2 separate regions of the Homo sapiens genome follow, and region 1 is linked to region 2. The links come from fine-mapping of genetic effects on gene expression. A gene starts in region 2. The other region holds a variant in brackets. All regions are shown on one strand. Distances are between the middles of the regions.

What was found. PIP is the estimated chance that this variant, and not a neighbour inherited with it, causes the effect.
Region 1: its variant is fine-mapped to the expression of TLR5 in monocytes after LPS (Fairfax 2014, PIP 0.93). The same link has a PIP of 0.9 or more in whole blood.

Annotation. Positions count from the first base shown.
Region 1 is chr1:223,108,944-223,111,852 of GRCh38, forward strand. TLR5 (toll like receptor 5) reads right to left here. Exons shown (of 6, transcript NM_003268.6): 6 at 461-2,909. The coding sequence ends at 1,512. Among named protein-coding and RNA genes, the nearest start is that of TLR5, 33 kb to the right of the region's middle. The variant T/C (reference allele first, on the strand shown) is at 1,566.
Region 2 is chr1:223,141,690-223,144,598 of GRCh38, forward strand. It overlaps TLR5 (toll like receptor 5), which reads right to left and starts at 1,559. Exons shown (of 6, transcript NM_003268.6): 1 at 1,507-1,559; 2 at 1-74. It overlaps LOC124904522 (a long non-coding RNA gene), which reads left to right and starts at 1,666. Exons shown (of 2, transcript XR_007066895.1): 1 at 1,666-1,909. RefSeq lists a silencer at 1,348-1,717.

The DNA.
Region 1 (2,909 bases), 33 kb before region 2:
GGATTTTGAAGAAAACGAAGAAAACGTAGGATGGATGTGCAGAGATGGGAGAAGAATCCAGAGGAAAGAGGTACAGTGGGGACTGCATGGTGTGCGTGAAAATAATGCCATCGCTGGGTGCAGGGAAAGCTCGGTCTCATTGATTAGAAGTGGCCAAAAGAAGTTGGGATGAGAATAGCGTGTATGTGTGTGTGTGTGTGTGTGTGCGCGCGTGTGTGTGTTGGAGGAGTCAGGATTGAGGGGCCCAGTGAGGGGAAGAAGGTGACAGTTTGGAGAGCTGAGTCCCAGACCCATGTGTACCCCTCAAACTGCAGGAGCTGACCTGGAGTTACGCTGGACTTGGAGGAGGCAGTGTGTGAAGCTATGGGGTAATTTTGGCACAGTTTCCTTGTTTTAAGTATTCTTAATCCTTTTGCAAAAACACATTTCTATATTAATAAACATGAAAAAAAGAACAGAATGGAAAATACACATAGATTTCATTTAAGATAAAAAAATACAACTTCAGTGAAATTGCAACTGCCCCCCAGGAGGCCTTCAGTGTATGTGTTCTCTTGTGGTCATTAGGGCAACGAAGGAAAAGATCTGAGAAGCCCTGACATCCTTGGCCAATTTAATTTTCACAGGAATTCTATGACATAGATGCTGTTACGTGAGAAAATGTAGGTCCAGCAAGGGCATACCAAGGCCAAGGTTACATGGCTAATACACAGCTGACTCAGAACTCAACCCAGGATCTGTGTGCAAAGTCCATGTTCTTCATGCAACAGCCTGAGCAGCTGATCAATGAGGTGTGCTAGGAAACAAAGCTGAAAAGGTAGGTTGGTGATAAATCATGGAAGGTCTTGAAGGCCAGGCTTAAATAAAGGCAGCATGTGAGAGAAAGTTCTTGGCTCACTAGGGCGAGACCTGGAGAAGCCGAAGGTAAGAACATGAAGTGCAGTACAGTCACAAGACAGGTAGTGACTCATTCATCCCAGCTTCTTTGGGGCCACCTCTTATCTATGAGACAAAGTGTGACTTGCACTCAACAGTGGCATTGTTTCTGTGGCAAAAGAAGGAAATGTGCCTCTGCTTCTGTTTGTTTTCTACTTAATGTTGTTTTGCAGAACACAGAGAACGCAGAATCATGGACCATCCCATTTTTTAGCTGAATGCTAGAGAAAGCACGTCAGCCATCTGCAACTTCTCCCAAGGTGCCCTTCCCATGATTAGGATACATTCCATAATCAACACAGCAGGACAGAACGGTATTATTGGATCTGAAAGAAAATCAATGGAGACTGGAAACCTCTAAGGGCAGTTGCAATTTTCTAGATCTATTATTTTCCATTTGGAGGTTAGTGAGACAGAACATGGTGTTGATACGAAAATTGAGAGATTTATGTTGTTTTCATAGTAGCAAAAAGAAAAAAAAAACCTCCAGAGAGGACCCCAAAATGATAACTTGGTGCAAATACAAAGTGAAGAGTTATTTGTGGCTTGAGATAAGTTGGAAATTGCTCCTTTGATTAGGAGATGGTTGCTACAGTTTGCAACGGAATGTTATTGTCTTTCTTCTTTTC[T/C]TTTTCTTTCTTTAGTATCTGTTGAGAGAGTTTATGAAGAAACCAGCCAACATCCTGGAGATCCTCAGGCCACCTCAAATACTGCTGTTTCTGTACAAAGCCTCTGATGGATTGATGTTTCATCAACTGGTACTGGGACAAGGACCCAACCACCACCATGATGAGAGCACTGTTAAGGTCAGATAAGCACCTGCCCTGGGCATAACTGAAGGCTTCAAGGCACCAGCCATCTCTAAGGAAGTGTCTGCTCACAAGACAAACGATCTTTCTACTGTTCCAGATGGCATCCTGGATATTGGCAATGCGGTTTTCTCCTGGGACAAAGTCTCTTTCTTCAAAGCACAGGTTGAATCTGTTTTGGTCACTGTATTGAGTGTCCAGGTGTTTGAGCAAAGCATTCTGCACCCATGTGAAGTCTTTGCTGCTGAAGCACAAATAGGCATCATATTTGTACATATCAGGTTCTGTGCCCTGGGGATGGTCCTTGAACACCAGTCTCTGGGCTGTCTTATAACAGATAAAACAGAAGCCCCGGAACTTTGTGACTGTGAGGATGGTCATGAGGAACAGAGTCAGAGTGACAGTGCATACAATGAAAAGGGAGAACTTTAGGGACTTTAAGACTTCCTCTTCATCACAACCTTCCGTGGAAAGAGAGAAGAGGGAAACCCCAGAGAACGAGTCAGGGTACACACAATATATGTCTGCAGGAGGCCCAGCTATAGTGACATTGGTGTGATTAAGCCAATTGATAAAAGTGCTAAGTTCACATTCACAAATGAACTTGTTATGAGTTATATCCAAGACACTAAGTGATACAAATACATCAGGATTAGGAGCTAGGAGCTGGTTCCTGGATATGTCCAGGATCTCTAAATTAGCAGGTAAATCATTGTGAGAAAGAACTGTCAGCCTGTTGGAGTTGAGGCTTAGTCCCCTTAATGCAGTCAGATGGCTAAATACTCCTGGTGGAAGGGAATTAAGATAGTTATGATTCAAATACAGAACTTGAAGATGAGAAAGTCCCTCAAAAACATCCCAACAGAGCTCAGTTTCCCAGGCAAGTTGCAACATATTTTCTCCAAGGAAAAGCTGTTCTAAGCTGGGATTCTCTGAAGGGGTTTGATCTCCACTACAGGAGGAGAAGCGATTTTGATTTAAAATGAGAATCTGGAGATGAGGTACCCGTAGGAGAAAGTAGAGAATATCTAGATTTTCTAGCCTGTTTTCTGATAAGTGGATGAGGTTCGCTGTAAGGTTGATCTTTGGCAAAGTCACTAGTTTATTGCCACTCAAGAAGATATCGGGTATGCTTGGAATAAAATGAATGGTTGTAAGAGCATT
Region 2 (2,909 bases):
TTGAACCCTGGAGGCAGTGGTTGCAGTCAGCCGAGATTGTGTCACTGCAGTCCAGCCTGGGCGGCAGAGTGAGACTGTCTCAAAAAAAAAATTACATATATATATATATATATATATATATATATATATATATAGAGAGAGAGAGAGAGAGAGAGAGAGAGAGAGAGAAAGAGAGAGAGAGAGATTATTTTTGTACTGCTTAGTAATTAGCTTTAGCACGGTCTCTCCTCTGGGACCTCCCCTGGAATTTCCCCACAATCCAGTAACTGAATAATTAGCATCCAGCCCCACAGAACTTCTCCCAGGGCCCTGCTCCAGGGCTTCCCTTCTGACTGGCTGTGCATGGCACACTGGGAATTGTTTTCTGCCCACAAGAACAAGGGTGAACTGAGTCAAGGAGTCCAAGAGATCTTGGACGCACTTCTCAGAATTCGGAGGGGCTGGGTAAATGCAGGAGAAAATTGATGAAACCACATTGGCCCTGCAAGAGCCTGACTGCTCCTGCACGGTAGCTACCCCTAGCATTAGCGGGGAGTCACCAATGCCTCTTCCAGGCACTGAGCAAGAGGGCGGCATTACAGATGCACTTGCCGTCCAAACAGATCATCTCATTGACTAGGTGACTGCTCAGCAACAGTATCTGAAGGACACTAGGGTTACTCTGCTTGTTTGCAGTTCACGGTGCTGGACGGATGTGTTCCCAACACTAGGTAACAACACCGCTCTCCCTCCTCCGGGAGAAAGCCGCAGCCGTCGATTCCCACCCAACAGGGCCTCAGCGCCTTCCCAGGGCAGCACCCTCACTCCTGCAACCACCAATCACCCAAGCCACAGCATGGTCCCAGACCCACCCTCGCCCCTTAGGAAATGGCTTTCCAATTGTGTTTTCACAGGAGCATGGCCACTGGGCAATGATCTTCACAGGCAGGCTTTTTTTTCCCCCTCTCAACATAAAGGCCAGCAATATTTACCACGGAGTCTTGGCCAGTGTGCACTGCCTGGTGCTGTGGGGTGGGGTGTTTAGGGCCTTTTGTTGAGCAGCTCAGTGACTTTCTGGGATTTCCATGGCCCTGCTGGAGATGGCCCTCTGTCTCCCTTTTCCAAGGAAGAAAGTGACTGGGGACAAGCCACCTGCCTCTTCCACAGGGTGGGGGCGAGAGTGACAGCGAGACAGCACAAGAAGGACCCGCTCTGTTTCAAAGCGAGGATGTGAGTGACTTCGTCTGTGCCGAGGTCTCTTCGTCTCCAACCTGCCGGGCACAGGGCACCCACATGACACGCTCACCCCGTCCCTGGGCCGAGGGACCCCACGTCTCGCGGGTGCCGCGGGGCAGAGAGCGCCGCCTAGTGAGGCGGCGCGAGTTGGACATAGACTGGAAAATAGACCCGGACAGCCCGGGAGGAGGGCGGAGAGGAGTCCGACCTCCGCAGGCAGCCGCGTCCCCGCCCCGCGCTGCCTACGACTTAGGGCCCCCGGCCCATCCCCTGCCGCTGCAGGGCGCTCACCTCTGGGACGCCTCCCCGCGCCGCCTGCGCCACGGTTGGCTCCTCCCGGACGCAAAAGCGGCGCCCTCGCTCGGGCTCCTGAAAACCTCGCGGCCCCGCCCACGGAAGGGCCCGCCCACCTGCCAGGCCACGCCCCCGTCTCGGCCACGCCGCAGCTCAGGGTTTTCTCTGAGGGCTGTGAGAGGCTAGGCCCGGGGAGAGGAGGCAGAGGTTATGCTCCGGTCTCTGCAGACTTCCACAGTGTCTATCGAGATCACACATGCCAGCATTGCCCCCTCCCATCCTCTCCTCATCGTACGGAGGAGGAAACCCAGGCCGAAGACCTGAAGTGTCCAAAAGCACAGCCAGGCCAAAGAGAAGCACCATCCCATGTTCTCCCACTCCCACTCCGGTGCTTCTTCAGGTAGGCTAAACTTCAGGCTAAAATGTGAAGATCACAGTGACACATTCCTGTCAGCAGAATCTGCTGCATATGTTTGGGAGCTGGGGTGTTTGGAAGCTCCGATTTTGTGTGGAGGACCCAAGAGAGAAGACAGACCCTTCCTGTCCTATAAGAACAGTGCTCCTCCTGCCCTAACTTCTCTTTTCCTTTTTCTAACTCCCTCTGCCTATGGGGTTTGCTGAAACTTTCAGGAAAAGGGACGTGTCAAAAGAAAGAAATGGACACCCCAGAGGCCGTGCAACCACAGGGTTAAAAGGAGGTAGCCTTATGAGAAAGCGGTGGAGTGGCTTTCTGGGGTGAAACCCAGTTCAAGGACAGAAATAGCACTGTCTTGAGTTAAGACTGGTGGTGGGGGAAGCCTGGGGGTGGGGCGCAGACTGCAGGCGGAGGAGCTCCCTGCCACCTGCCACTTGGGGTGTAATCACAGAGCAGCTGACACTCCCCACTCACTGCCTGGAGGAGCTTGGCGGTGGGATCGGGCAAGGCGGGAAAGATAGGTGTAAAACAAAGCCTGGCACTTAATTACAGTGCAAAGATCTCATTATAGAGTCTTCTCAGCTCCCCTCCTCGGCTGGCAGCTTGAAGCCTGAGTGACAAATTGCCTAGGTAGGTCTCCAAGGGCTGTATGTAGAGGGATGAAACCACCTCCCTGCCCACCCGAACCCCACTGTGGGGGCTGTGGAGAGGGAGGGGATGTTCACACTCTGGCATATGCAGGGGGCAGTGGGGAAGTCTGTAAGGGCACCTAGAAAGCAGTAAGAGCTGGGAGCCACAGTGGCCCTAGCCTGACATAAATAACACCTTGCTGGGGCAAGCCCAGTGTTCCCTCTTTTGGTAGTGGAACCGAGGGCAAGGTTGGGGACAGCTTGACGTGTGGCACTGTTTACTCTGCATCATAGGTGGATGCTGCAAGACCAGCAGGGGCCTGGCTTATCATGCAACTTTGTGAATATGTGGGAGA